Regions from separate parts of the Homo sapiens genome. Here all the other regions are linked to region 1. The links come from fine-mapping of genetic effects on plasma protein levels. A gene starts in region 1. Each other region holds a variant in brackets. All regions are shown on one strand. Distances are between the middles of the regions.

Region 1 (5,074 bases):
AGCTAAATTTTTTTTGGTGGAGTCAGGGTCTTGCTGTTATCTAGGCTGGTCTTGAACTCCTGGCCTCAAGTGATCTTCCTGCCTTGGCCTCCCATAGCGTTGGGATTACAGGTGTGAGGCACTGTACTTGGCCTGGATCAATTTTTAAAAATTTAAATATCATTTAATTATTTTTGATAAGGATCAGATGACTATTTCTCTAAGAAACGGATTAATAATAAGACAGGTCCTTAAAGATGCACCTTACAGAAAGGGTGACCCTGAAATCTAGAGGAGTTTAGGGATACTTCTCAAGGTCACACACTTTGGTAGCACTAAAGGAGTAGGGCTCTTGCTTTCAAGGCCAGATCTTGGCAGCAAGCTGCTTTACCAGTTATCACTGCCTCTGCCCCTAACATGGAGAACTGCTTGAAGGGGGATAACCTCTTTTTGCGCGCTAGAGATTTTAACAACACAACCCGAACTCAGCTGAATAGTTTTTAAACAAGGTTCCTGTGATGAGTGTCTTCTGATTTCTTCTGCTGTCTCCCCGCGCCACAGGTCAGAGACCTGTGCCCTGTTGAACCTAGAGGCTCCTACAATAGCTCCTGGTATTTAGCTGAAGTAGGGTGTTCCTCTCTGTCTGGGGCAGATGGTTGTATTTCTAGTCCAGAACCTGCTATAATTTACTCTGTCCTCCCACACTAATAGCGATTCTTCTATCTGCCAGCTTGGCTTCTATAGCCTTCTGCAATCTGGACCCGCTCCACCCAGTTCATCTCTTTCTTCTCTACATGTAGAACACACCCTCATGGCCAACAGGTGTCCTGGGCTCACCCCATTTCCGCCACAGAAATATCCTCCCTGCTCTCCTCATATGCAAATCATTCTTCAAGGCACTGCTCAAGGTCTTTCTGCCCCCAAAGCCTGCCCATGTACAGGCCAATGGTTTGCTTTCCAAATCTCTTTACATTTATGTTCCCAATTTACCTAAGTTAGCCCTCAACAGGTTTCTGTATATATCTCCAAGTGTAGTGCAGGCTCCTTGAGGGCAGGCACACAAGTGTTCATTCATTCACTGGAGGCTTTTAGCAACACCTTATAAAGCGAGAAAGAAGGAGAAATATAAACTATGGTTGCTTCCAGTCCTCAGGGAGGGGAGACATACCTGGCACACAGTGGGCCCTCAACAAAGGTTTGCTATATTGAACTAACATATATGCCTCTCGTTGCAATTACTTGCTAAGTCCCATGAGAGGTATCAAATGGTGTTATAGGGAAAGCATCATCAAAGAGGTGGCATTTGAACCCTATAGGCTTTAAGGGCAGGGCATGGTTTTGTCTTTGTTTACAGAACTGGGAGGAGGTTACAGACAGAAGAAACAGCATTCCTACTACACACAGTGCCAGGTGCACACAGTGCCAGGCACACATCACTCACCAGAAACTGGGGAAAGCAGTGGAATTGAGTGAGTTCTGTCCCTGCCCCGGCACCAATTAGACTGAGTGAGTGGGCAAGTTGCTTAACTTCCCTGGGCCCCCGTTTCCTTCCCATTCTGAAGTGATTAAGCTGCACAGACTTCAGAAAGAAGCAGACTGAGTGAGGTTCGAATGATGACTATATGTGACCTTGAGCCAATCCGAAGCCGGCTCGCTCAGTCTCAATTTCCTTCCTATAAAATGGGTAAAATAATTTCTACCTCACAGGGCTTTTGTGAGATTTCGAGAACATATGTGAGTCGCTAACCACACAGCCTGGCAATACCAGATTTCCTTTTACAAAAGTAGGGGTGACAACGCTGATCTGCCTCTTTCTGTGTGGCTGCTGCTGCCTCCGCAGCACCCATCCCAGAGGCTGTCAGGAGTAGGGGCCGTGGACAAACTTCATGACCCCGAAAGAGAAAACAGAGCTGAAGGGGCTTCGGGGGGAAAAAGTAAAGAGCTGGCCACAGCAGGCTAACTTGGCTAACGGGGACACTTGGTGAATGCGTCCCCTTGAACAGACTTACCACAGTCGAGAATCTTTGCTAACTCGCATCAACCATGCCTCCCAAGCTGGCTGGATTTTGGACAGCCTTTTTTGTCTCCGCCTTCAAACCCAAGGCAAAGGACAAGGCCCAACCCCATGGCGGGCTGGGAGAGTGAAAGCAGGGGGAGTCCCCCAATTCCCAGCGGAAAGGAAGGGCGATCTGTTCCCACCCGCTGACTCCCACTCCCGGGGCCAGGGCTCCTTGGGCGCCCCCCTTCATTTCTCTCCTCTCCGCACAGGTCGGGAAGGGAGGGGGTCGCGCTTGGCCCGCGGCGCAGGTTCACCCCGGCTTTCGTCCCTCCGACCCCGCCTGGCCGCCCATCCCCGACCCCCGTGGACCCTGCTCGGCCGCCCCGGCTGGGGTCGATCTGGCCCTCCGCCCCCAGCCTGCGTGGAACCCGCCGGGCCGCCAGCCCCACCTCGGCCGCGTCCCCTCCCCTCCGCTCCGCTCTTCTCCCCTCCCCTCGCGGCCACCTCGGTGCCCACCCCGGCCTCCGCAGACCCCGCCGGGACCCCGCCCCGCGCCCAGCCACCCCCGCGCCGGCTTCCCGGCCCCCGTAGACCCCGCCCGGCCCTCCCTCTCCGGGGTCGTGGCGGCGGGGAGGAGGGGCCGCCGGGCCGGCGTGCGTGGCAAGCTCTCCCGGCTCGGCTCGCTCGGCCTCCCTTACCGGGAGGCGGGGTCGGCGCCGCGGCGGCGGAGGCAGGCCCCCTCCTCCCGCCTCCTCGGCCCGGCCTCCTTCCCCGGCCGCGCGTCCTCTCGCCGCTCCGACGCCAGCAGCGCCCGCGTGCCGCTCGCCCAGTCCCGGGGGAGCCCCTGCAAGTTTCCCGGGCCGCGCGCCGCGCTCGCTCGCCTCCCAGCCCGCGGCCCGAGCCGCCGCCGCGCCCGCCATGCCCTCGGCCAAACAAAGGGGCTCCAAGGGCGGCCACGGCGCCGCGAGCCCCTCGGAGAAGGGTGCCCACCCGTCGGGCGGCGCGGATGACGTGGCGAAGAAGCCGCCGCCGGCGCCGCAGCAGCCGCCGCCGCCGCCCGCGCCGCACCCGCAGCAGCACCCGCAGCAGCACCCGCAGAACCAGGCGCACGGCAAGGGCGGCCACCGCGGCGGCGGCGGCGGCGGCGGCAAGTCCTCCTCCTCCTCCTCCGCCTCCGCCGCCGCTGCCGCCGCCGCCGCCTCGTCCTCGGCGTCCTGCTCGCGCAGGCTCGGCAGGGCGCTCAACTTTCTCTTCTACCTCGCCCTGGTGGCGGCGGCCGCTTTCTCGGGCTGGTGCGTCCACCACGTCCTGGAGGAGGTCCAGCAGGTCCGGCGCAGCCACCAGGACTTCTCCCGGCAGAGGGAGGAGCTGGGCCAGGGCTTGCAGGGCGTCGAGCAGAAGGTGGGTACCCCCGGCCCCGCAACTGTCCCCATCGACTGCGGCCTCCGGACCCACGGCCGGGCTCCTTCGTGCTTCCCGACCGGCCCCTAGCGCTGCCTGCCCAGGCCCGGAGGCGGGAGCCGGCCGCTCCTCCTTGGCGGGCCCTGGCCTAGACATCCCACTCCACGCGGCCCCCTAGTTCCGAGGCAGTCCCCAGACCCCCTTTGTTAATGGCTGCGGAGGAATCGGCCCCGAGGGATGGGCCGCCGCGAGGATGCCCAGGCCCGCCTGGCAGGGTGGGCCAAGGGCCTGTCACAGGGCATTAGCGGTGACCTGTAAGGAAGCCGGCAGGCTCCGGGGAGCCCATTCTTTCTGCATTAGGAACCGCTGAATGGGCAGAGCTGTCTGAAAAGGAGGTTGGAAGGGAAGCCAGCGCATCCCTGGAAGCCTCAGGCAAGGCCCCACCTCAGCTCTGCCTGTGGGAGACATCCGAGCGGGGTTTTTAATAGACCCGGAGCTGGCATTCTTACTCATTTGCAGGTCCAAATGAAATACCATCTATCTTTAGGTCCCTTGTCCTGTATTGGACCAGCCTGCCCAGGTGGGCCTTTGACGTAGTCCTACTTCAGCTTTTTTGGGTTTTCTTTTGAGAGGGAGTCTGGCTCTGTCGCCCAGGCTGGAGTGCAGTGGTACGATCTCAGCTCACTGCAACCTCTGCCTCCCAGGTTCCAGCGATTCTCCTGCCTCAGCCTCCTGAGTAGCTGGGATTACAGACATGTGCCACCATACCCAGCTAATTTTTTATTAGTAGTAGAGACAAAGTTTCACCGTATTGGCCAGGCTGGTCTCGAACTTCTGACCTCAAGTGATCCGCCTGCCTCGGCCTCCCAAAGTGCTGGGATTACAGGCGTGAGCCACTGCGCCCGGCCCTACTTCCGCTTTAGGGGAAGAGGAGGGCCAAAAATACTAGATCATACTGGTGAATAATACTTCTAGCCACATTTATATGGTGTTTAGAATGCTTACTCACTCACATATTATCTAATTCTTATAACTACCCTGGGAGGGAGGACTAACAGTTTTGATTTCATTTCCCAGAGCAGAACATTGAGGTTTAGACAGAGGAATGAGTTGACAAAGTCCCCAGCTGGTGAGTGACAGACACACGAGAATGTCTAGGCCACTGCCCTGTTCGTCAAGGGTCCACAGGGGTCCATTTCAGGTATGGATGGACCCAACTCTCAAGGCGAAGGTGCTTAGCTTCCACCCTTCTGTGGTTTTTCCATACCAAGTACAGCCCCTTTGATCTTATTCGCCCTCCACTATGTCATTGCTCAATGAAAGTTGGTTGCAAGACTGAAACAAAAAATCCCGCCACTTCTGATCCCGGAGCCACTGCCTCCTTTTCCCAGCATGCTGTCTGTCCTGCCAAGTTGCTCTCTGCTTTTGTTGAGTGTGCAGGACCAGGAATTTCCTCTTAAGACTGGCAGAGCACGGCCGGGCGTGGTGGCTCACGCCTGTAATCCCGGCACTGTAGGAGGCCGAGGCGGGCGGATCACCTGAGGTCAGAAGTTTGAGAGCAGCCTGGCCAACATGGTGAAACCCTGTGTCTACTAAAAATACAAAAATTAGCGGGGTGTGGTGGCACATGCCTGTAGTCCCAGCTACTCAGGAGGTTGAGGCAGGAGAATTGCTTGAACCCGGGAGGTGGAGGTT
Region 2 (5,074 bases), 78 kb before region 1:
ATTTCTGACATTTTGGCTTTTCCTTTGATTCTGCAAACTTCCTCCATCCTTCCATTCACTTCCCTTTGGCTAAGTCAGCTAGAGTTGGTTTCTGTTCCTTGCAATACAACTCAGGTAATATAACACAAAACTGAAAAATTCAAAGAAGGCTGAAAAAGTAGCAGCTTGGTTTAATCTGGACTTGGATTTGGGAGACCTGGTTTCCAGTCCTAGCTCCACTGTTTTTTGTTTTGTTTTGTTTTGTTTTTGAGACAGACACTTGCTCTGTCGCCCAGGCTGGAGTGCAGAGGCGCAATCTCGGCTCACTGCAGCCTCCGCCTCCCAGGTTCAAGCCATTCTCCTGCCTCAGTCTCCTAAGTAGCTAGGATCACAGGCACGCGCCACCACACCCGGCTAATTTTTGTATTTTTAGTAGAGACAGGGTTTCACCATGTTGGCCAGGATGGTCTCGATCTCCTGAACTCATGATCTGCCCGCCTTGGCCTCCCAAAGTGCTGGGATTACAGGCGTAAGCCATGGCGCCCAGCCTCCACTGTTTACTTAGCTGAATGATTCTGAGTCTAAGGAGGTCATCACTGAGCATCAGTTTGCTCTTCTTTAAAATATTCCATAAATATTTCTTGAACCCCTCATGTGACAGGTGAAGGCAATCACAATAGAGTTTCAAATATTCTGAAAGTGATATTTATGTCCCACAGAATTTTTTTAAAGAATAACATGAAATAAAGTTCATGAAAACATTTGATCAGATATGACGTATTGTCTAAATAAAGCCTTTCTTTCTGGGTATCTTAAAAATTACTTATGGCCCCCACCCAGGGATAATCTCTTGCTATTTTCACAGATAATTTACATGTTGGATCTAATGTGGTTATCTTGTTGCTACTTACTTAGTACAGATAATCATTCCTAAGGTTCTCCTGGCTATATTTAAAATAGGCAATTATATAAAATCTCCTCTTAGGCAAAATAAAATATTTTCCTGGAGCCAATTCAGAAATCTAGAGTACTTCTCTGTATTAATTTTCTAATAATTCTTATATAATCATGTGTACACAGAAATCCAACATTTTGAGGCTCTTATTTTGATATTAGGGCACAGGGGCTGACTTTTGGCAGAGTGACTTGGGGACATAATTAACAGCTGACATACACTCTGCTTCTGGGACTCTTGATTTCTCTTGCTAAGCAATAATGACCTATATGCAAAGCTGGGTTTGCTCTATTCTTAAATCTCTGAAAATATCCAAGTCAATAGAAAAGTTGCAAATGGATTACAGGTCACTAAGCCTGGGTTTTAAAAAGAGAAGCAAGCCAGGTGCAGTGGCTCATGCCTGTAATCCCAGCAAGTTGAGAGGCAGGAAGAAGCCAGTAGTTAGAGACCAGCCTGAGCAACACAGACCCCCGTCTCTACAAAAAATGTTTTAAAAATTAGCCAGGCGTGGTGGCACATGCCTGTAGTCCTAGCTACTTGGGAAGCTGAGACAGGAGAATCCCTTGAGTCCAAGAATTGGAGGCTAGAGTAAGTTATCATCATGCCACTGCACCCCAGCCTGGGCAATAGAGTGAGACTCTGTCTCTTAAAGACAAACAGGGGGGAAAAAAAAGAAGGAAAGAAAAAAAACAGAAAAAAAATAGGCAAATAATTTGAGATGAAGAAAATCATAATTCACCCTATTAGAGAATTTGCTCAAGATTCCAAGCTATCTTGATGAAAGATATGGGTGCATTTGTACATGTGCTTACATACACAGGTACACAAATGAAAGCAACCACTAAGTCTCAGAGAAATGCTGCTGTGGACAGTTGCCACAGTTGAGGTTTCAGATCCAGGTTCGATGTAGGGTTCTACTTCACTTTACTCCCTCCCCTTTGAAGCTAAAACAACATAGCCCTTGGAGTCATAGAGTTTTTGTTATAGAACAAAACTTAAAAGTTATCTGACTAGATAACTGGCTATCCAGATGACTAAATAATCTGCCAGATGATGTGAGAGATCCCTCTGCAATATCCCCCACAGTTGATATCTTGTTTGAAGAGAGGCAGGGTTGCACAGTATCTAAATGCACACGCTTTGAGTCAGAGACACATCTGGGTTACCCAGGCTCTACCCCTTACTAGTAGTCATCTAGACTAAGTACCTTAACCTCACTTTCCTCAGTTGTATTAGGGGGTGATAACAGTACCAACCTCATAGGGCTAGTGTGATGCTTGCATAGACTACTAAAGTGGTACAGTAAGGACTTAGCATGTAGTAAGTGCTCATACAAAATGTTAGCTAGCACTGACTACTGCTATAATAGGCCCATTCCAAAGTTAAAACAGCTCCAACTATCAGGAAGGTCAAAACCAGCTGTCTGCTTCCTCCCTCTCATGAATCCTAGTCTGCCCTACAGAATTTCACCAGTCTCTGAGTTGCTGTCAACAGGGAGGGTGGATGGGGCCATGGCCCACCTGAGTCTCCTTGTTACCAAGCAGAACATGCCCAGCTTCCTCGACGGTTCCTCAGGTGGCCTCCATGATCAATGTGCTCTCCCCTGGATGTGCTCCTGCCTGCCAGGGCCCCTTTAAATGTGGCGCCTGTTTTGTCTTTTTTATATAAGGCCATTGTGTTGATTATCTCGGCAGAAACCACCTAACTCAGCCTTAAATAGTGGTTAATTAAACCCCAGAGGCTGGTGTCAAGAGTTTGCCAATGAGCAGTTAGCCAGCCTCTTGCAGCTGTGCAACCTCTGGCATCTCAGTTTCCTTGCCTGTAAGATAAAGGGAATAACAGTACCTACTTCACTGGGTAACTGGTAATTGTGAAGATTTGATGAGCTAAGATTTCTTCTAATCCTATTTTTCCTTGATCCCCCTCCAGTCTGGTGTGTGTGGGTTTTTTTTTTTTTTTTTTTTTCCGAGACGGAGTCTTGCTCAGCCCCCCAGGCTGGAGTGCAATGATGCGACCTTGGCTCAC[T/C]GCAACCACCATCTCCTGGGTTCAAGCGATTCTCCCATCTCAACCTCCCGAGCAGCTGGGATTACAGGCACCTGCCATCATCCCGGCTAATTTTTAGATTTTAGTAGAGAAGGGGTTTCAGCATGTTGGCCAGGCTGGTCTTGAACTCCTGATCTCAGGTGATGTGCCTGCCTCGGCCTCCCAAAGTGCTAGGATTACAGGTGTGAGCCACTGTGCCCTGCCCAGTCTGGCTTTAATGCACACAAATCCACTGAAACCACTCTCATCAAGGTTACTGACCATCATCAAACAGTCAAATCCAATGGTCAAGTTGGCCTGTGTCTTTCTTGACCACTTAGCAATGCTTGTCAAATCCAAACATGCCTTCCTTCTCCAAATACCTTCTTCACGTATCTTACAGGACACCCGCCTCTCCTGACTGTCACACTACCTCTCTGGCTACTCCCTCATAGTCTCCATTGTTAGACCCTCCTCCTCATCTCAACTTCAGCTTCTAGCTGCTGGAGTGCCCCACGTCAGTTTCTTTCAGAGTCCACACTCACTCCCCCTAGGTAGTCTCACCCAGTGTAATATAATGGACAGGAACATGGACTATGGAGCCAAGCTGCCTTCCTAGGTGAGCTCCTATACTTTTAAGTGTGTTACATAGGCCAGTGACTTAACCTCACAGTGCCTCAGTTTCCGCACCCATAAAATGGGGGGTAACTTCATATAGTTGTTGCAAGGATTAAATTAGTTTGTACAGGTAAAGTACTTAGAGTGTGATAAGGATTTTCTAAGTGTTAACTAGTACCCAGTTCCATGGCTTTATATATCATACATATACTGATGATTCCCAAATACATATACAGTTTCCATTATTCCTGTAAACTCATAATTCATATCTAAATGCCTACCTAACATCTCCACATTGATGTCAAATGAAATCTCAAAAGTTTACATCACCAAACTGAACTCTTGATTCCATGTCATCTCCCAACCTTCTTTCTCCTGGTCTCACCAGTTTCACTCAAACTGTATGACCATTCACCCGGTTGTACGAGGCCAAAAACCTTAGAGTCACCCTCAACTCTTTTCTCCCTTATCCAATCTTCAGCAAATCTGATTACTCCACTTTCAAAATGTATCCAGAATCTGGTCTCTTCTCACTCCTTCCACCATTACCATCTGGAACAAGCCACCATCATTTCTTGCCTGAGCAACTGTAATACCACCTAATTGGTACCTCTGTTTCCCTCTTTGTTCCCACATGACCTATTCTGTAGCCAGGAACAAGAATATTCTTCAAAAATGAAAATCAGATGTTGCTCCCCTGATTAAAACTCTCTGATGAGTTTCCACCGCACATGGAATGAAATCCAAACTCCTCTCATTTACTAACAATGCTCTATGTGACCTGCCTTTATCTCCTTTTCAGCCTCATCTCTTACCACTCTCCCCTTACCAACTCTACTCCCGTCACAATGTCTGCCCTGTGTTTGTCAAACTCATAAGCAGTTTCTGCTTCAGTGCCTTTGTACCTGCAGTCCCTCAGGCTAGAACGTTCTTTTCCCCATCTTTACATGCCCCTTCCTCATTTCTTTGCAAACTTTACTCAAATGTTACTTACAGAGACCTTCCCAGTCCATCACATCTAAAAAACAATGCTGTCCTCACTTCTGACCCATTACTGTCCCTTTATCCTATTTTTCTTCATAGCACTTAATAATACACCTGACAATATATGTTTATTTATTTGTCATGCCTACTAGAATGTCAGCTCCTTGGGGACGGCAACTGTATTCCATTCTGTTCGCTGCAGTATCCACTGCACCTAAGCAGTGTCTGAAACACAGGAGGCACTCAATAAATATATCTTGAATGAATGAAGAAACGAATAGTGCTTAGCACAGTTCCTGGACAGAATAAACAACTGTAAGTTTGTGATGTCAATTTTGGAAGGTAAAAAAATGTTTAATAGAAAGGCCAAAATTCTTTAGTGATACTATATATGAAGTCAAAAATGAAAACATCACCTAATTTTCATTTTAACCTTTAACATTTTAAATTTTAATTAATTTAAATTAAATTAAATTTTATTTATTTATTAATTTAATTTAATTTAATTTAATTTAA
Region 3 (5,074 bases), 61 kb before region 1:
TTCTGGTGCATCTAGAAAGGAGGGGAAGTCTGTTGCTCTCAGGCGTTTCTGAGTTTTCAAATCCAACACATATCTAGAAGTACCCCTGCCACCCACAACCCCTGCTCCCCCATCGGCTCACAAGCAGGAGAGCTGGATTTGCTGGAGGAGTCACTTGCAAAGCTCTGCCTGGAGCATTCATAGTCACTGAGCGAAGCCATGCTTTCGGAAAACCGGGAAGAATCAGAATCGCTTGGCTGGTCCTCTCCCACACACTGCTTCTCGCCATTGAAGGGCATTTTGCGTCACTTAAGTGTGGGTAAAAAGGTAGCACCTGCACAGACAAACAGACCCTGCGTCAATGTTCTGTGGTACTTCCACAGGCACCACCAATGCTTCTTCCAGTGTAGACAACTGTCCCCACAAGTGTCACTGTGTTGGAAAGGCCCCCAGATGACCTCATCCTTCCCCCAGCACCTTGGCCGGACTAGGCCAGATCACTAGGTCATCGAGATTGCCTTTCTGAAAAGGGATTCCACAGCCATAGGTGTGAGCTTACTCAGGACACACCCACTATAAATGTGAAGCTCTAAGTAATGGCAGGTCCTTTTTAAAAAGATGCAGGACACATGCTCTCTCCTCCTGGGTTGCTGAAACATGAGAAGGCGGGAGTGTGGGACTTGGGTCAGATCTCTCGTTCTGTTCTGCCTTTTGCCATGAGACCTTGGGAAGGTCACTTAACTACCTACCTCATAGTGAAACTGGACTGAAAGACTAACCTCTCATTGGGTTGCCAGAAGATTGAATAGAATTCATCTTAAAGAGCTTGGCACAGTACTCAAATGTTAGCTGCTATTATTGCTCCTATTGCTTTGTTTCAGATAAAATAGCTGTGAAATCAGCCTCTTTACGCTTTCTGTGAACCTCCTGGGGAAAGGGGAAGACCGCATGAAACCTCTGGCTGGCAAGTCTTTAGCTTCTTCCCCCTCCATTTCCACATGAACTGCTGTGATATGAAGATTAAGACCTGATATATGGTTAGGATTTGACAATTTACAAAGTACCCATCACAACCCTATGAGTGCACAAGCATGTAGGATCCTGACTCACAAGTGGGGGAACAGACTCAGAGGGATAAGGGGATTTACTACATGATAAAACCAGTCCCTTGGTGTCTATGTCCAGTGTTTCTGGGACATGAGAATCCTTCCAGGGAAGGGCCGTCAGGTTTGGACACTACCCAGAAAGCAGATCACAGGCACACAGGATGACCAGGCCTTGGTCCCAGGAGCACCAGCCAGGCCCGTGAGGGAGCTGACCTTGATGTGAATATGGTATCACCTGACACTGAAGGGGAAACCCGGGCTCAAGGAGAAAGGCACCTCAAATCCTGGATGGACAATAATGAGAGGAAGAGTTCACTGAATCCTTTTAAACCTAAACCAGCCCATGCAATGAGGGATGCAGTGCTTTTAAAGCGGCCAGAATGGGAAACCACAACTATGTATAGTATGTCTGAAAATGCCTGCAGTTTCTTCAATGATTCCATTAATATTCAACAAGTGCCTACTTGAGCACTGAGCACCGGGGAAAGTAACCAAACAAAGACAATGCCCTATTCTTGTGGTTCTCAAGTCCAGCTACCTAAAACTGTGTACTGAATGCTACTAGATGGGAAAAGGGGGAATAAGGCATTGTTGAGAAAACACAAGAAAGGAGAGGCAGGCTCAGGATTAGCAGAGCGGGAGAAGGGGCACTAGCCTTTGTTGAGAGAAAAAGAGTAATTTTTTTAATTCCTTGGATGGTGATGGGGACAAGGATGAGTCTGAGAGGGATCTAATAAGGGTGAAAGGTCTAAGGTCATTTGCGCCTTGCCTCACCTAAACAACCGTCTTCAATCCTGCCACAGAAATGTATCCTTGCTGAGCCCACCACTTTTGCAAGCAGAAAACCACTAGAGTCCACTTGTGCAGGCTGAAGGGCAAGGAGTGGAGTGGAGACACTCACCTTATCCCAGAATCCCAAAGCCATGAACACTGGCTATAAGATTCTTGAGCCCTTGCATCCTCAGTGGTGAAACAGCCTCCTCTAACTCATGAAGACTAAATTCTACCTGAGCTTAAACTCCAATCTGCTCAGGGGAAGGCGAGAGAAGACAGAAGAAAAGGGGCTACTTCAAACCTTTCACTGCCACCAAACCCCAAATCCTAAATGGAATGTTCACCCTCCCCTCTAGTTTGCTTCCTCTCTTTGCCAACATTTGATGTCCCACTGATGGCATTTCTTGCAAATGCTACCTTCTCCAGGAAGCCTTGCTTCTAGCCAAAGTGAATAGCACTCCTCTTGGTATGTCTGCAGCGCGTCTCCTGTATCTCCATGACAGCGCTTAGTTCCTTGTACATTAGTTCCTTGTTCCTTTCTTCCCATGGCTACTTCTGAATCTCCTTAATAAAGCAGAGTTTGTGTCTTGTCCATGACCAGCGCCAAGTATATGACAAGTATTCATTCAGTGTCAGCTAAATCAGAATCCCTGAATCTCATTTGGTACAGCTTCAACCAGAACATTTGCAACCTGATATCATGACACGTTAACCAGGCTGGTACTGCCAAAGCCCAAGCCTTAGAGCAGAGAATCTACTGCTTAAGCCTATCTTATTAGATTTAAACCTCAAGATTCTCAGGTCCTTGTCATGCTCTTATTTGAATATCTTAAAGTTTGTTTCCACTTTAAGTCATTTTTCCCCCAGTTATTCCCCTGTAATGTAACCGCTGTGCTATGCATGCTCTGCTCTTAATTTTTCTCTACTTCGGTTGCCCTCAAATGAGCTCTGGCTGTTTTTCCAAGTGAAATTGAATAAGAGCTTCCAGCCATGAGAATTTATGAACTAGCTTAATAGTTTTAACTGTCCATTTCATTTTTCTACTTTAGCTGGATAGCACACTTGGTAGGTTTCTTAACTGTGTTTAACAAGGCAGAAAAGTGCAAAGATTAAAATAATTGGGAGTCAGGAGTCCAGGGTTTGTGGCCTGGGTTCATCATTAATGTGCCGTGTGACTTTATGCACATTTTTCTGAGAGGTTGGGCCAGTCATAAGGTTTCTCTCAGCAAGGAATATA[T/C]GATGCTCCAAACCCAGAGTTCCATGAGGCATCACTAGAAGTTCTGAGAAATTAAATGTGCTTATGGCAGTCATGCTTAACAATGTGAAACTACACTTTCTTCCAGCAATTCACTGGAGGTAGAGTTCCTGGCACAGGGGCTGCAATGGAAAATTTAAAAGCTTCAAAATGTTTAGAAACTCTTGTTTAGTGGGTAGAAGCCTCCACATTACAACTGGGCCTTAGTGTATCCAAACAGAAACCTGTATTTGAAGCCAAAATGCCCATTATTACTCTATTAAAAATTTGTCTGTTTCCTCATATAGGCTTACTAAGAATACCTAATTCATAGGGTTGGTGTGAGATTTCAGGTACCCAATACATGCAGCGTGTTTGGAACAGTCATTGACACAGTAAACAGTATACAAATGTTTTCTATTATTTGCTTTTTTTTGTTAATATCATTGCCTCAGGAATTAAACACTCTGGAGGGAAGAACAGTTTTATGTCAGGATAACACCATATTCTTCAACAGACAAACAAGGCTGGTAGTTAACATAGAACAGAACTCTTGGCACTTGTTTGACAGACAAAAACCAAAAGCGAATGGCCCATCACTGTGTGAATGGTCTTCCGCAAGTTCCTTCATACCTGCTCTTACCTTTCTCGGTCTTGAGTTTCCAAGTAAGTCACCTGGGGACAAACCTACTTGATTCAAAAGGCACTGAGGATATTTAGATTGCTTTAAAAACTATTTTGGATTATCCTTTAGACTGATGATAATGAAACCAGGCTGTATCTTTAAGAAAGGTAATACTCCTTATGCAAACTTAGATCTACCTAACCTTTGCCACTGCAACTCACAAGTAAATCAAACAACTTTTCAGAAACATCACATCTCATCATACCTGGAGGATTTAATCACTGGTCAAAGGTAAAGTCAACAGAAAAGACTGAAGATGACTCCAAGCAAAGCCTCCAACACGATAGCAGGTCACTATTCAAAGAAAAGTACTGTCATATTCACATTTTTGATTGTATTATTCCATCACTTTGTGATAATAAATATAATGTCATTTCTTCTGAGACCATCACTGGAATGCAGCAAGCATTCAAATATTTATTCAAATATTTATTGTTGAATAAATGAATGGTAGTAAGACTACTGACATTTAAGAGGTGTGAATGGGTACAAGGACTTGAAGGGGCTAGTGCTGTATTTCACTACAGATAGAGAGGAGATTGGTTTTTAATTTGCTTGTGATTCCTCAGCTCGTGTGCAGCTTTACTTCCTGATTTCCTTTCTGCAGCAACTCTATCTGCAAATAGTTCTGCACTGGTTCAGAATTGCAAAGATACACTGATGATAATACATGTCACTGAAGCCATAAGAACATTGCCTCTGGAGCTAGGTGGACTGGGTTCTTGATCCCGGCTCCTCTTGATTATTTACTGACTAGAAACAGAGAACTCGCCATTTGTAAAATGGGACAATAATAGTATCCACCTTGTAGAAGTGTTGTGAAGATTAACTGAAATAGTATCTGTCAAGTACTTAAGCTCCTAGTAAGTGCCTGACGGATGTCAACTATTATTTTATTCTTATTAAAAGAAGTTACAAGTTCCGAAAATGTAATGTCATAAAAAACAAAGAAAGGTTGAGAATATGTTCCAAATGAAAAAAAAACACTTGATAACTGAGTGCAATAGGTGATCCTAGAGTGGATCCTATACTGAAGCAAAAATGCTGTAAAGGACAGTATCAGTCAATCAATAGCACTGTTAACAATATTTGAATCTACTGTCTGTTATCCAATGTTAAATATACTGAAGTTGAAATGTACTGTGGTTTTGTATTTAGGAATAAAGGGCCATGACATATACAACTTTTTCTCAAATGATTCAAATGCAAGAGAGAAAAAATAATAAAGCACATAGAGCAAAATGTTAATAGGTGAATCTGAGAAAAAGGTAGACAACATGGTATTCCTTATACTAT
Region 4 (5,074 bases), 320 kb before region 1:
GATGGTACTTCCGATTTTTTCCATTCTATGGTTTGCTCTTTGAGGGTCTTATTTAAGAATTCCTGTCTCCAGCATTACATTCATTTTTCTTTCATTCACTTGACCTTTTATCATTCCATCTAGGCACTTAGTCCATCTGTAGTTCGCCTTTGTATTGTTTTGCAATGTTTTTCCAGTATGGTTAACCATTCTTTTTCCATCAAAACATGTCTCAGTCAGCTTGTCCTGCCATTAAAAAATGCCATAGACTGGGTGGTTTAAACAACAGAAAATGATTTTCTCACAGTTCCTGAGGTGAGATGTTCAATTCTGCCAATTCTGTGTCTGGTGAAGGCTCTCTCCCTAGCTTGTGGACAGCCACCTTCTTGCTATGTCCTCCTATGGCCTTTCCTTAGTGTGTGGGCAGGGAGATAGAGAAAGAGATTTCTCCCTTTTTTTTTAATACTAGTGCACAAAATTTATGTATGCTTGCCTGTTTTTCAGGGAGAAAAATCTTCATTAATCATGGTGAGAAGAAACTCAACTCCTTGGACCATAAAAATACAACACCCAGGTATCACTTGTAGCCAGGTGCCTGATTTATACCTAGCAGGAGTTAAAGCAGCTATGGCACACTGGCCTGGAAAACACACTTATGGAAGGTCATGGTCTAGTTCTCTAAAACAGTAGGGAGGCTGCTTGTGGGGAAGGCTCCCCAGTAGGATCCCACCACACAAAAGATTCTTCCTTGATTGCTCATAAAGGCTCATCCACTCTCCACACCCAAAGACAGCCGTATGGGTATCTAACTGGAGTGGCCCAAGATGATCCAGAGGAAATTCAAGACGCAGATGCTATTCAGTGCAGAACAGATGCTTCCTGGTATCTTTGTGGTCTAGATGGCTGACACATTCTTTTGCCAAGAAAAGCATTTCAAAGCATGGTCCACGACTCTAGAAACCCTTTTCCTCTGCTTGGGGGCAGTGAGAGATGGATCAGTCAATCCAGCTGCTGGATTCTGTCTCTTGTTCATGCCTCTTAGTTAAAGGCAGATCCTGTAACTGGCCCAAGGTGACCCATGTGCAGGTGATGCCCTGCAGTCTGACCCCCACCCCAGCTGTCACATAGACAGTTCTAGGACCAACAAGGCATTGAACCCACCAAATTGGTTCCAGTTTTTATAAAGGTAGTTTTTAATGCTGGTGTGATGGTGATGAAACAGACATGGACATTTCAACTCAGGAATAGCCAAATGGAAGAGATGTGTAGGGCAAGCTGTGGGGAAGCAGGGGGATGCGCGTGTCTGTATGTCCAGAACTGTCATGTCTTCTCTTGGGTGCCACCCTCCCAAATCTCAAGGTATTCACCAACCTGGAAGCTCCTCCCTCTTCCTATAAGGCCACCAATCCTGTCGGCTTAGGGCTCCACTCTGATGACCTCCTTAAACCTGAATTACCTCCTAAAGGCCCTGCCTCCAAATACAGTCACACTGGGGGCTAGAGCTTCAACATATAATTTTGGAAGGACACAATTCATAATTCAGTCCACAGCAACTATCTGTTAAATAATCTATATTTTCCCCACTGGTGTGTGGCACCACCACAATCATACTCTAATTTCCCATATAGGCACTCTTTAGTCATTTTCTTTCATCTGTTTGCTTCTTCCTGACCTGGTTCCATTCTACCTTTATCACTATGTCTTTGTAACATTTTTTATATCTGGTAAAGCAAGTTTCCCTTTCTCTTCTTTTTCAAAACTGGCTTAGTGGTTCATGGAATTAAATTTTTCATATATATTTATTTTAGAAGAAATTTGTCAAATTTATCAAAAATCCTTGAGCAATTTCTTTCCTTCTTTCTCCTTCCTTCCTCCCTCCCTTCCTTCTCTTCCTTTCTTCCTTTCCTTCCTTCCTTCCTTCCTCCCTCCCTACCCCCTTTTTTTCTTTCTCTTCTTTCTTTCCCTCCTTCCCTCCCTTCCCTTCCTTCCTTCCCTCCTTCCATCCCTCCCTCCCTCCCTCCATTGCCCAGGCTGGAGTGCAGTGGCACAATCACAGGTCACTGAAGCCTC[G/C]ACCTCCCAGGGCTCAACTGATTCTCCTGCCTCAGCTTCCTGAGTAGCTGAGACTACAGGCACACACCATCACCCAGCTAATTTTTTGATTTTTTTTTTTTTTTTAAAGACGGGGTCTCATTATGTTGCCCAGGCTGCTCTTGAATTCCTGGGCTCACTCGATCCTTCCACCTCAGCCTCCCAAAATACTTGGATTACATGCGTGACCCACCATGCCCAGCCCTTTGAGTAATTTCAGTTGAACTTGCATTAAATTGTTGAGTTGAATCAGTATGTTTACATGTCACTCCACATATAAACATGGAATAATCTGTTCATTTATTTTAAAAAAATATGTCCTTTAAGTTTGTTGGTAAAAGTCTGCCTTAGTTTGTTCAATTTAGTCAGGAACTTATGGTTTGGTTTCTATTATTAATGCTATCTTGTTTATCCTGTTTTATACGTGGTTATTGCTAGTATAGAGGAACACTATTGGATTTTTTTTTTCATAACTTTGCTGAGGTATGTGGCAGTCAGGTAGACGTGTGACTCAGATCTCTTTTAAGAGAATCTGCTGTGGGAGCATGGTTGACTGACAGCTGCTGCTGCTGCCTCTCTGTGGCTACCATCACAGTCTTACCTATGGCTCCCAGTGACTGGGTACAGTAGTGGTAATAGCGCCGGTGCATTCTTGCAGAATGCAAGCTTTGTCTGAAGGCCCCCCGTTTGCCCGGCTGAACCATTTTTAGAACGTTGCTGCAGACTGAGAGTTGTCCTACCTAATCTTTCTTCCTTCCCCCTTTCCTTTCACAGATATGAGTCAGGCGTTACCATGTGACGATTCTCCCCATCTTTTTCTACTCTTTTTTACCCTTCACAGGAATTTTTCTCCCAATACATTTCTTGCATGTCTAATCTTGCTTTGTCTCCTGCTTCTTGGAGGACTAGAACTGAGAGAAGGGATGATTTACATTTAGTGAAATGCACAGATCTCATTTACAGTTCCATGAGTATGACAAATGCTTACACTTGTGTGTCTCATACTACCAACTATACTTGCTGACTTAGTTATTTCTTTCAATTGTCATTTAAAAATATGTGTTTCAGTGCTTTCTTAGGTGAATATACAGGTGTGATCATATATCTGTTGAAATATGCCTTACAAATATAAAGCTTCCTTCTTTGTCACATATCTATTTGTTCTGATAATAAAATTGCTCTCTTTAAGATCCTATTTCTCTGGTGTATTTATCTCCCTTCTTGTATTTTTTATCTTTTTGTATTCTCTTGCTTTAAGTGTTTCTCTCATAGATAACATTAGATATTAATCCTCTCTGCATCTTTATCTTTTTATACTAGTGAATTTTATACATATGACCTTCCTTTCATGTATTCTATTTACCACACTTTCTGTTCCTTTTATTTCCTCTTACTACTTGCCATTAGAAAGGGTAAAATTAAACCAGGTTTTTGTTTTAGTAAGTTATGAACGACTACCCAAAGAATAAAATTGAATGTATAATTTCAAGCAAGAGACATTTCAATCTATCTAATCATTTTTAATTATCGATTGTCACATACATGTTTTGTTTGCTTATTTCATTGTAATGGTTGCTGAGTTTTACAACAGAATTTACCAAATTATTTATTCACCCTTCCATTTTTGACCACATCCTCCTTGTTTCCTTCTTGCTAGAGCACTTCCTTGAATATTTTCAAAGAGGGTGTTTCTATGGCAAACATGAATTATTAACATTAAATATTACTATTAATTATCATATTTAAATGATAGTTTAGCTGGATTTAGAATTTTAGGTCCTAAGTTCTTTTACTTTAATACTGAAAATATTACTCTGTGGTTTCCTTGTAGATGTCACTGTTGAGAAACCTGATGTTGGTGATTCTTGTTCCTTTTCAGGCAATTTGTTTTGTATCTCGAAGTGTTTAGAATTTTCTCAATGTCTCTGATGTGCTTAAATGATATGAACATGTATCTAGGTATGTTTTTTTCTTATGTTCCTTATCTTGTTAGGAGTACTTGTACTTTGAGGTCTTAAAAACCTCTCTAATCTGAGAAATTCTCTGTTTACTCTTTCTTTAAATATTCTACTCTTGTTATTTTTTCTTTTCTTCTGAGACTTCTATTAATTGAATGTTGGTGCTTCTGTTTCTATTTTCCATATCTCTTTTCTTTTTTATATTACAACTATAAAACCCATAATGATGCTATCTGGAACTAATACTCCACTACTTTGATTTCTTATCTATGTATTCTGCTATTCAATCTACTAATCAATAGTCAATCCATTGAGTTTTTGTTTCAATTTTTTATACTCAGAAATTCTTCTTGGGGCTTCATTATGCCTTTGGCTTCACAGTATCCTTTCTTATCTGTTTAATATGCTTTCTTGTTCTGTCTGGTCTGCTAAGTTTGCTTTATCTAAGATTAGATTTTTCCATTAGTTGCTTTTCTCTTATATCAGTGGCTAATTATACCCAGGAGTATATTTTTTTCCTAGGAGTTCAAATTCAGAGCTGTCACACTGCAATGCAGTGGCCCTATACCTATTCTTCTAGAATAGAGATTCTCAACCTGGGGTAAATTTGCCCCAACAGAAGAAATTTTTGGTTGTCATCACCTGTGGTGGAGGGTGGAGGAGTATTACTACTGGCTCTAGTGTGTAAAAGCCAGGGATGCACTTAAAAATCCTATAATGTACAGGAAATCCTCCCACAACAAAAACTTATTTGGCCAAAATTTCAATAATGCTAAGGTTGAGAAATTCCGTCCTAGAGGTACTAGATGCCTGAGCCAGTGAGAAAGGCTAAAGCATAAGCCCTAGCTTCTATCTTTCTTGATAAATTTGGCATTGAGGGAGCAGAGAGAAAGAGAGCAAGAGAGAGCTCAGGATGTTACAGTTTGGACTTCCATCTGGACCCCCTTGTTTTCAAGATTTGTCTGTGAAGGAGGAGTCACTATAAAGCAGGGTAGAGGGAGGAAGGAATGCTAAGGGGCTGAGCAGTTTACTTGTACCCACTGTTAACC
Region 5 (5,074 bases), 19 kb after region 1:
ATTCCTAAATCCCTATGCCTAGCTGAGACCATACCTCTGAGCTACTAATCTGTTTTTCCAATAATATCTGGACACCTTGCTGCCCCCTAACACCCTCGGAAATCTCCCTCGGATCCAAACTGAAGTCATTTCCCCTCGAAGTAAATGGCACAGCTGGCCCCTTCACTGCTTAAGCTAGAAGCTCAGGAGTCACCCGTTGTCTCCCTGTTTCTCCCCTTTCCCCTCCCTCCACTTCTCCTAGGGTTGAGGCCTTGACACATCCACCTCTGTCCCCTCCTCCCAGCCTTTTGGGTTCCAGCAGCAGCCGCTCCCCACGATGCTCTCTGCTGGTCAACTGAGATCAGAAACGTGGTCCATGCACTCAGTATCCATTCAACAATATTCAGAGAGCGCACACTCTTTGCCAGACTAAGGAGATTACTTTATAGATATGGTTCCTGCCTTCATGGTGCTCATGATGCAGCTGGGAGGAGACATACAGGACAATGTATTATACACACTGCAGTATATGCTTGAGGGACAGGTACAGCCTCCTAACTGGCCTCCCTGTCTCTAGCCTGGCTCCCATTCAGGGAATCAATCCTCCATGGGTGACCATCGTTCTCTTTCTCAAAAGTAAATCTGCCTGTGTCCCCTCCCTGCGAAATCCCTAGGCTCTCCCCTTGGCCTCAGGAGCAGCCTGGCTCTGGGTCGTGGCCAAGAAGGAGCTTTCCGATTGCTCTGTCTTCCTGCCCTCCAGCCTCCTCTTCTGTGAACTCTGTTTGTAGCCGCCCTGATTAGCATAACTACCCCTCATGTGGCCCCTGGTTCTGTCACTCTTGGTGCCTTTGCACGTTCCCTGGATCCTTCAACCCAAACCACAGGCTGAATTTGGGAGCTCCTCCCACGAGAGCCCACACTCCAGGCTTCTTGTCTTCAAAGTGCTCCTCTGTCTGTATCATGACCGCTTGCTTCTGGTGTGTTCCACATGAGAATAAGGCTCTGTCTTTCATCTCTGCATCCACAGAGATCATTGTGCTTGGCCCACATCAATAATAACAGAAATAACTAAAATTTATTGAGCATTTACTATGTGCCAGACACTGCTCTAAAGGTTTTACGAGGATTATCTCATTCAATCATTATAATAGTCCTAAGGGTAGGTACTATTGGCCTCTCCATTTTACTGATGGGGAAACTGAGGTACAGAGCGATTCAGTAACTTGGACAAAGTACTTCCTAGTCATAGCTAGCAAGTGGGGTAGCCAGGTTTAGAACCCAATAGCTTGAGTTATTAGGTTGGTTCAAAAGTAATCGTGTTTTTTGCCATTAAAAGTAATGGCAAACCATTACATTTTAATGGTAAACCATTAAAATTTTGTACTGCTCTAGAACTGGTTTCTTTTCTTCACTTAAAAAGACATCACTGTTTGGGATTACTTTTTGTTGAGGTGCAACTTTGGTGCTTTAAGGCACACACATCTGAAATATATGGCTGAATGAATTTCTGCACACGATATCTCCATGTACTCACTACCAGATCAAGATATGCAACTTTTCCAGCACACCAGGGGCTCCCCGTGCTCCTCAGTCAATACCCTCTAACCTAACCACTATTCTGCTATCACCATAGAATATTTTGCCCATTTTTGAATTTTGTAGAGATGAAATCATACCATATAAGACTTGGTATTTCTTTTAAAAAATGACAGCTTTACTGAGATAAAATTCACATACCATAAAGTTCACCCTATTAAAGTGTACAGTTGTTTTCAGCATATTCACAGAAGGCTGGAAACATTCCTATCTGGATGAATCTTGCCCAGCCATATATTAAAAAAAAGTGTGAGACATAGTAGGTGTTCAATAAAGGGCAGCTGTTTGAGAACATACTGACTTCTGAACTGGACACTGCATTTGTCCTGATGGTCAGTAACTCAGAGAGAAAAAGAGAGGGTGAGGTGTAGTGGACGTTTTCTTCGTCATACCCCTCTGACTGGGTTCACAGAGGGAGGACCTAAAACCTCAGAGGCAGAGGGTTGAATTGCCCTTCCCCGTCTTCAGGATGTGTTTGGTCAAGGGATTGATTCCACCTACTGTCATTTATTATAAACTGGGTGCTGAGCTGCATTTGCTCAGCGGAGATGAGATGAAAGATGAAGTCTTCCTCTTTGAGAGGCTCCCAGCCAAACAGGGGACACAGACATGTAAATGGCACCATAATCACATGCAGGGTGACCTGTGCAGCGGTCAAGGGACCACATGAGGACTGCTGGGTCCTGGACATGTGTTGTTGCCTGCCCAGCATCCAGTCCTCCTTCATTTGGTGACCACTTCTCTGTTTTCTGTTAGGGAATCACCCCTTCCCCACTCTCAGTCCATTTGGCTTTGATGAGACTGACTGGGCTGAGTGCATGACCCAGGTTTGGCCAATCAGAAATCTGGTTTGACTTGTGCAGGAGGAATACAGGTCGCCATCCAGTCCATTGACTACTGCTGGAACTTTCTGGAAAGGGATGCTTTCTGCCCACCGGGACTGCCAAGCTGGATAAATGCCCAGGGCTGCTAAAGGCCACCACATGTGCAGAGTCCACTGAGAATGAGGCCAGCATAGAAGAAAACAGAACCAAGAGTCGGCAAAACACAGGTTCCTGAGGACATAGTTTGAACACCCAGGTCACTTGTGCTAGAGGCCATGTGTGTCTCCACAGAGCCCCTGAACACCACTGTGTCCCCTTTCCTGCGCACAAGG[C/T]GACATGCAGCCGTGGAGAGAATGGGCACAGCAGCGCCGCTTACGAAGAAAGAAAAGTGGAAACACCGAGAAAGTAGCTACAAGATCAGTAAATCCACTATCACTTGTTCATACAATAGACCTCAAAACGACAACAAAAAGGAAGAAATCCTAATCTCATATATCGTGGGGATGAATCTCACAACTAAAATGCTGAGTGAAAAAATAAGCTGCAGACAAAATACACAGTGTGACACTTCAGAAATTCCTTAATTCTTAAAACTAAGACATTTTACCGTGTAAAATAATACTATACATTGTAGTGAAAGTACCAAGAAATGACTAGGAGACCGAATATCCAAATTCAGATCATTTGATTTCTTAGGCTGAGTGGAGGCTACCTAAGTATTCATGATATCACTCATAATACATTTTTTCTCCTTTCAATATTTTATTATGAAAATTCAAACAGCAAAGTTGAAAGAATTGTCCAGCGGACACTCATATATCTACTACTTAGATACTATAATGAACACTTTGCTATGTTTGTGTATCACATATATATCCATCTCCCCATTTTTACAATTTTTTTGAACAGTGTCTTGCTCTGTTCAGAAAAATAAAAAAATATGGGGAGATGGTATATATATATGTGATATATATACGTCCAGGCTGCAGTGCGGTGGCCGATCTTGGCTCACTGTAGCCTCTACCTCCCCAGCTCAAGTGATTCTCCCACCGCAGCCTCCCAAGTAGTAGCCGGGACTAACAGGCGTGCACCACCACACCCGGCTAATTTTTGTGTTTTTGTAGAGACAAGTTCTTGCCTTGTTGCTCACTCTGTTCTTGAATTCCTGGACTTAAGTGATCACCTGCCTTGGCCTCCCAAAGTGCTGGGATTACAGGTGTCAGCCACCATGCCTGGCCTCCCCATATTCCTGATATCTTTTCATAGGTCAGAAATATTTTGTAATTAAACTTTTTTTTTTTAAAGGGGAAGAAACACATAGAGAAAAGCTTATACTTTTAATAGTTAAACTAGTACAGGTCAGAAAACAAATGACGCCTACATATATTACGTGAAGTGCTGCATTTACGCATGATTACTTTTCATAGTAATGATAGCTAAGTAGCCATGTGACAGGCCTTAGAAAGCTAAGGCTGAGAGAAGGCTCTAATCTAATTCTGTTGTTTTACAGATGGGGAGGCTGAGTCTCAGAGAAGTTGTTCACCCAAGCTCATACACTAACTGGCTAAGAAGACAGGGCCTAATTTCTTCTCTTATCCCCCACAATTTGTTTTGGCTCCAGGCCTAAGCACAGATGCAAAATGCTCAGAAGTAAGCGAAGAATCAGGGCAGTTGAGTTGCTGCAGGCAGCAAAACCCACTCTTGGCAGGAAGGGGTGTGGCAGCCTGGCCTTGCTGTGCAAGCCCCCGCGTGTGGCAGCGAACACTCAGGAGCAATACCTGTTGGGTAATGGGGCTGTGGGGAAATCCCGGCCTGTGTTCAAATAGCTGGTGATGTTGTGTTGAAAGAGGCATTACCAACTGGGTGTGGCTGCTGGTGTGAGGACACATCCTGTCCCACAGAGTCCTTCATGGAAACTCAGAAGGCTAGGTCTTTTTGTTTTCTTCCATTCACGGGTATGATCTTGGTTTGCACTCCAGGACGGAGTTCTCACATGGTGTGACAAGAACAGCAGGGATGGGGGAAGTCACCTGGAATCAGGACTCTGGTCCGAATGCTGGCCTGCCGGGCTGTGCTGCCTAGGATAATTCACTTTCCTTCTCTGGGCCTCCATCTGTTTTCCCATCTGAAAAGTGAGGGGAGATAAAGTAATCTTCATGTTCTCTTCCAGATCCAACTTTCCTTGACTTTAACCATTGCACAAGAGTCTTTTGGAGCCTCGGGTGGGCAGGAGGAGGCCTAAGGGAAAAAGGACTAGACAGTGAGCAGATCTCTAGGGGCCAGGGTGGCTTCTGTCTTAACCAAGGGTCTGTTTGTAGCTCCCATGGGGGCCGGCACACACTGGGTCACAATTAATGTTTTCTCATTTATTGGGGTGAAATGGGGAATGTTGGCCGGGCCGGGCTGACATCTTGGATAACCTCATGTGAAGACTATTCACTTTCAGAAGATGCCGGGATGCACCAGTAAAAAATCCAGAGCGGCTCAAGCCCCTGAACTTTCAGCTGGGGAATAGCCCCAAATCAGCTGACTGTGGCAGTAGGAACCCAGAGAACATAATTGAAGTGAGAATTTATTGCCATCTAGTGTCAGAGTCAGGGATCACAGGAATGATTTCTTCATTTTTCGCTCTTGTTCCAGAAAGGGGATAAAATCCAATTGTACCATTAAAAATA
Region 6 (5,074 bases), 240 kb before region 1:
CTATATCTTCACTTGGAGTCTAATCATCTCAACCTGAGGCCCAAACTCTCAACCTCTGCCCTTGTCTAATGCCAAAAAACTATTCTTTACCCAATTGCTCCCATCTTGGTAAACAGCATTATCAGTTGCTCAGGCCACAAACTTCATCCTCAACTCCTGTCTTTTCCTCTTGCAACATCCATCCAAGCCATAAGCAAGTCCTGTTGGCTCTATCTCCAGAGTATGTCCAGAATCCAGTCACTTCTCTCTATTTTTCCACTGCTGCTGTCCTAGTCCAAGCCACCACCCTTTCTTGCCTGGACCACTGCAATGGTCTCCCTGCCCCCTTCCTTGCCCGTTCCAATCCACTTTTCATATAGAATCCACAGTGAGCTCTAGAAGTTGTAAGTTAGATCTCGTCACTCCTTTGCTTATATTCATTTTTATGGTTTGTATGTACCCACAAAAACTCATGTTGAGATTTAATTGATATGGGGCCTTTAAGAGGTGGTTAGGTCATAAGGACTCCATTCCCATGAATGGATTAATGCCATTATTACAGACTTGGGTTACTTATCTCAGGACTGGTTTGGTTATAAAAGCAAGCTCTCCTGCCCCTCTGCCTGTCTGCCACGGGATGATCCTCTCCAGATGCTGGTGCCACGCTCCTCCACTTCCAAGTCTTTAGAACCATAAGCCAAATAAACTTCTTTTCTTTATAAATTATCCAGTCAGTGGTATTTTGTCATAGCAGCAGAAAATGGACCAAGACACCCACCATCCAACGGTTCTGTTGGTTCCCAGCATATCTGGAGTAAAGTCCAATCTCCTTTCTTTTAGCCAAAAGGCCCTATAGGATATGCCCCCATCATCCTTCTGTCACTCCCCAAGTCTCATACTGTGCTGCTTGTCAGGCATATGCCTGGCCAGACTGGCCTTTTTTCTGTTCCTTGAATATACCAAGCTTATTCGTGCCTCAGAACTCTTACCCTAATGATTCTCTCTGCCTATAACTAAATCCTCCCAGACTTTTGCTCGGCTGGCTCCTTTGTATCCTTCGTGTCTCAGCTCAATGTCGCTTCCTCCGAGAGGCTGTTCCTGATCGTAATCTAAAGTACACACCCCCACCTCTAAACCATCCACTCTTTTATATCATTCTTCATATATGGCACTTATCATTACCTTCAATTATCCTGTTTATATTTTTGTTTACACTTTTTTTTCTTGAAATGGAGTCTTGCTATACTGCCCAGGCTGGTCTCAAACTCCTGGGCTCAAGTGATCCTCCTGCCTCAGCCTACTAAGTAGTTGGGGTTTATATTTTTGTTTACTTCTTTTTTGTCTGTTTCCTCCCCAAGGAGAACACAAATCCCGGGAGAACAGAGACCCCATCAGTCTTGTTTACCTCTGTATTTCCAGTATTTAGAACAGTGCTTGGCACACAGTGAAAGCTCAATAAATGGATGAATTAATCAACAATATAGGCACTCGAGATGATCTTCCATCATCTCACCATCTCAAGTCAGTGAGACACAAATGCTTTGTGATTGGTGCCATCGTTTACCGGATTAAAACCACAGTCCCCGTGGTTTTTCTTCTTTATGCTGTCTTTATTTCAGTCAGTCAAGTCCATTCATTTGCTCTTCTCTGCTGCCCCCTGTTTTTCTTTCACATCTTTATCAAAGCCCTCTAAGCCTGAACCCCATCTAGTCTCTGAGGGCTTCCTTTACCAGGCAGCCTGCAAGAGAAGACCCAAGACAGACCTGCCCGCAGCTCACCTTTACTGCCTCCTGTCTGTGCATCAGGCACTGTGTTCCCTGCTTTTACACATTAGTATCAAGGAGGCCAAGACATAAAGGGACAAAATAGTTCACCTAGTTGGAGTTCAAGACCTTTCTCTCTCTGCTATACTTTTCGTCAATCCGAGGGCTTTCTTTAAATACTGAACAGAGGATGGCTGTGATGAAAAGGCAATATGTTCATTCAGTATGGCCCACAAGACAAGGCAGGACTAACTGCAGTAACTTATAGACTCTTGAGCACTCTTACTAACTCTTGAGCACCTCTGACTCAAGAAAACTATCAGAGCAGTGCTACTACAGAAGAGGCTGCCTCAGAAAATAGCAAGGGCCTCCCTTCACAGGCCACAATCAACATGGAAAACCATCTGCCAAAGATAATCTAAAAAGAACTCTTATACTAGAAGATGGATTTAGACTGGACTTCTAAAAGGACTTTTCAAACTCTAAGATTCTATTCCTATCTATGGTAAACTCTAAACCTCTATATTTTTAGTGGTTTCTCCCATATAATTTAGCATTTAACTATGTAATCCTTCGTATCCATCTTTTTGCTTCAGGTGTCAGTCAACTCCTCATGGGCATTAGTCAAGGGATTAATTTACTTTCTATCCCCTAAAGTGCCCCACACAGTTTTGAGCCCACAACAGTAACTTAAAAATGACCGAATAGGTTTCCCTGGGGCTGTCAAGGCAGGTTCTCATTTGTGCCTGGGATGGACGTGGGTGGGCATGTATACAGTTGACCCTTGAATAACACAGGTCTTAACTGTGCAGGTCCACTTATATGGGGATTTTTCTTCAATGAGATATGAATCGAAAATACAGCATTTGCGGAATGTGAGCCCTTCTCCACAGAGGGACAACTTTTCATATATTTGGGTTTTACAGGCCCAACTGTGGGACTTGAATATATGCAGGGGTCCTGGAACCAATTCCCAGCATATACTGAGGGATAACTATATTTAGTTATTATGGCTGAAGAAGCTTTAGTGGGCCTGTGTGATCAGTTAGGGTTGGGGAGCTATGAGTCTTAGGTGTTGAAACTCCTGGTGCCAGTTTAGATAAAAATGAGGCATCTCATTTCTGATATTTACTAGGAAGAATAAATTACACTTATTCTGGGAGTAGTGAGTTTGGCTTGTTATGTCAGTACAATTTCCAACAAGACCAATGAATATGTAAAATCCTTTATTTAATAAAGGATTCCTCAAACATCATAAGTGGATACCATATTATATGCAAAGTGCTATGCTGGGTGCTTTGGGGTTAAGTAAATCAGCAGGGCATGTTTCCTAATCTCAACG[A/T]ACCTAAAATATACTTACCTAAGTGATATGGTTTAGATTTGTGTCCCCACCCAAATCTCGTGTCAAATCCCCAGTGTTGGAGGAAGAACCTGGTGGGAGGAGATTGGATCATGAGGTGGATTCCCCCCTCGCTGTTCTCATGATAGTGAGTGAGTTCTCACAGGAACTGGTTGTTTTAAAGTGTGTAGCACCTCCCCCTTCTCTCTCTTCCTCCTGCTCTGGCCGTGTAAGATGTGCCTGCTTCCCCTTTGCCTTCTGCCATGATTGTAACTTTCCTGAGGCCTCCCTAGCCATGCTTCCTGTACAGCCTGCAGAGTTGTGAGCCAGTTAAACCTCTTTTCTTTATAAATTATCCAGTCTGAGGTATTTCTTTATAGCAGTGTGAGAATGGAATAACACACTAAGTTAGCCAACAAGGTATTCTGGATATTTAACAACATATACAATTATTTTTTAAAAAAACTATTGGTATCTTTGAATCTTTAGAATTTTATTTATAAAACTTCAAAAAATAGACTTTTACTACTGTCATGCCTCTGGCTTCAGATGGGTGACATTCAAGAAGAGGACCAAAGTTGTAGACCTTAGTTACAACAATGATCCAGAAGAAAGATAAATTATTTTCAGATAAGAGCTGACAAACTATGATTAATGCTTCTCTGATGATTGTTAGCATTTATGTAATAATTCTCAGGGTGTGAGCTTTAAACATTTTAAAATTAATTTTCAATCTGAGAATTGATTAAAATAGACAAAAACAAACAAACAAACAAACCCAAGAAGTCTTAGAGGCAAGGCTCTGGTCAGGAAACAAAAGGTTAGTGCTCTAAAAATCCTTCTCATTTTTTATTAAAATAATTTTCAGTTCTATAAGTTGCATTGAAAAAAATCAAGCATACTCACTAAACATTCTTGTGCTGAATATTCACAAATAATAAACAGATTTCTAGTTAAACATGACAGATGAAACACATGTGTTTATCAACACTGCTTCTCTAAACTTCACTGAGTTTAAAAAAATTAAGGTGTAAACCTACGTGTAAGGAGAAAGAATGGGCACAGTGGTATCAGTGGGCATGAGATAATTCTACAACTTTGAAAGCTGATAAAGAGAGGAAAGAAAAGTAACAGGAGAGTAATACTAAGTCCCTGCAGATGAGATGTGAAGAGGTGAGCTGACATGGCCTTTGGTGCCACCCCCACTCACCCACCCGATTCCTGGGAAGGCTCAGAAGACAGAGACACGAAGTACTAGTATTGCAAAAGGCAGCGTGAGGAGCGAAGCTGAAAGCAAGAAGACTGAGTCAAAGCCGCCCAATCCATCAGCAATTCCAGGAGGCTCTACTTTCAAAATGTGTCCAGACTCTGATCCCTTCTCACCAATTCCTCATCGTTATGCTTTTCCAGCCCACCTCCAACTCTCACATAGCTTCTGAACTGGCACCACTGCAGTTTCTTTCAACACAGCAGCCAGTGTCAGTCAGATCATCTCTCTCACCAGCTCAAACCCCTCTCCAGTGGCTTCCCTCTCCCTCAGAATAAAAGCCAAAGTTCCTGCAGTGACCTATGAGCCTCATGGCTGCCTCCTCACTTCTCACTCTGCTCCAGCTATGGGGCCTCCTTGCTGGTCTTCTATTAGGTGAGCTACAGCTGCAAAACCTTCACCTCAAATGCTCTTCAGCCAGAGAGGGCTCACCCTCTTACTTCTCTCAGATCTTTACTCAATGCCATCTTTTCAACATGGTGTTGTTCCCCAACCACTCTGCCTAAACTTTGAATCACTAACCACACGCCCTCCCCTCACATGCTTCCCATCCCCCCTCCCAGCTTTCAATCTTTTCTCATCTCACGACATATCATTCCCTCAGCACTTACTATTTTCCTTCTTGCCCACAAGAACACAAGCCCCGCAAGGGTTGGAACTTTAATCTATTTTGTTTACTGCTTGTGACCAGAGCCTAGAATAGTACCAGACACGCAGAAGATACTT

Alleles and levels. Positions count from the first base shown, and alleles are read on the strand shown. Strength reflects both the effect of a copy and how common the allele is.
In carriers of allele T in region 2, the plasma level of the protein whose gene starts at base 2,728 in region 1 tends to be lower than with C alone (weak association).
For the plasma level of the protein whose gene starts at base 2,728 in region 1, allele T in region 3 goes with a lower level than allele C (weak association).
With allele C in place of G in region 4, the plasma level of the protein whose gene starts at base 2,728 in region 1 is lower (weak association).
With allele T in place of C in region 5, the plasma level of the protein whose gene starts at base 2,728 in region 1 is higher (weak association).
For the plasma level of the protein whose gene starts at base 2,728 in region 1, allele A in region 6 goes with a lower level than allele T (weak association).

What was found. PIP is the chance, under the fine-mapping model, that this variant and not a neighbour inherited with it causes the effect. The UK Biobank Pharma Proteomics Project read protein levels with antibody pairs (Olink). The fine-mapping took linkage between variants from a reference panel, not from the people measured, so its PIPs are less certain.
Region 2: its variant is fine-mapped to the plasma level of the CKAP4 protein (UK Biobank, PIP above 0.99).
Region 3: its variant is fine-mapped to the plasma level of the CKAP4 protein (UK Biobank, PIP above 0.99).
Region 4: its variant is fine-mapped to the plasma level of the CKAP4 protein (UK Biobank, PIP above 0.99).
Region 5: its variant is fine-mapped to the plasma level of the CKAP4 protein (UK Biobank, PIP above 0.99).
Region 6: its variant is fine-mapped to the plasma level of the CKAP4 protein (UK Biobank, PIP above 0.99).

The regions. Positions count from the first base shown.
Region 1 is chr12:106,245,674-106,250,747 of GRCh38, reverse strand. CKAP4 (cytoskeleton associated protein 4) reads left to right here and starts at 2,728. Exons shown (of 2, transcript NM_006825.4): 1 at 2,728-3,379. The coding sequence starts at 2,897. LOC124903008 (a long non-coding RNA gene) reads right to left here and starts at 2,476. Exons shown (of 2, transcript XR_007063443.1): 1 at 1,989-2,476; 2 at 1-1,077. RefSeq lists silencers at 2,153-2,492, 2,523-2,832, 3,493-3,582.
Region 2 is chr12:106,323,718-106,328,791 of GRCh38, reverse strand. All of the region lies in intron 6 of TCP11L2 (t-complex 11 like 2), which reads right to left. Among named protein-coding and RNA genes, the nearest start is that of TCP11L2, 24 kb to the right of the region's middle. The variant T/C (reference allele first, on the strand shown) is at 2,960.
Region 3 is chr12:106,306,280-106,311,353 of GRCh38, reverse strand. TCP11L2 (t-complex 11 like 2) reads right to left here. Exons shown (of 10, transcript NM_152772.3): 2 at 122-313. The coding sequence starts at 278. Among named protein-coding and RNA genes, the nearest start is that of TCP11L2, 6.1 kb to the right of the region's middle. The variant T/C (reference allele first, on the strand shown) is at 3,097.
Region 4 is chr12:106,562,722-106,567,795 of GRCh38, reverse strand. All of the region lies in intron 1 of LOC100287944 (a long non-coding RNA gene), which reads left to right. Among named protein-coding and RNA genes, the nearest start is that of RFX4, 18 kb to the left of the region's middle. The variant G/C (reference allele first, on the strand shown) is at 2,050.
Region 5 is chr12:106,226,889-106,231,962 of GRCh38, reverse strand. No RefSeq gene overlaps it. Among named protein-coding and RNA genes, the nearest start is that of CKAP4, 19 kb to the left of the region's middle. The variant C/T (reference allele first, on the strand shown) is at 2,732.
Region 6 is chr12:106,480,722-106,485,795 of GRCh38, reverse strand. The region is part of intron 23 of POLR3B (RNA polymerase III subunit B); the gene reads right to left. Among named protein-coding and RNA genes, the nearest start is that of RFX4, 100 kb to the left of the region's middle. The variant A/T (reference allele first, on the strand shown) is at 3,085.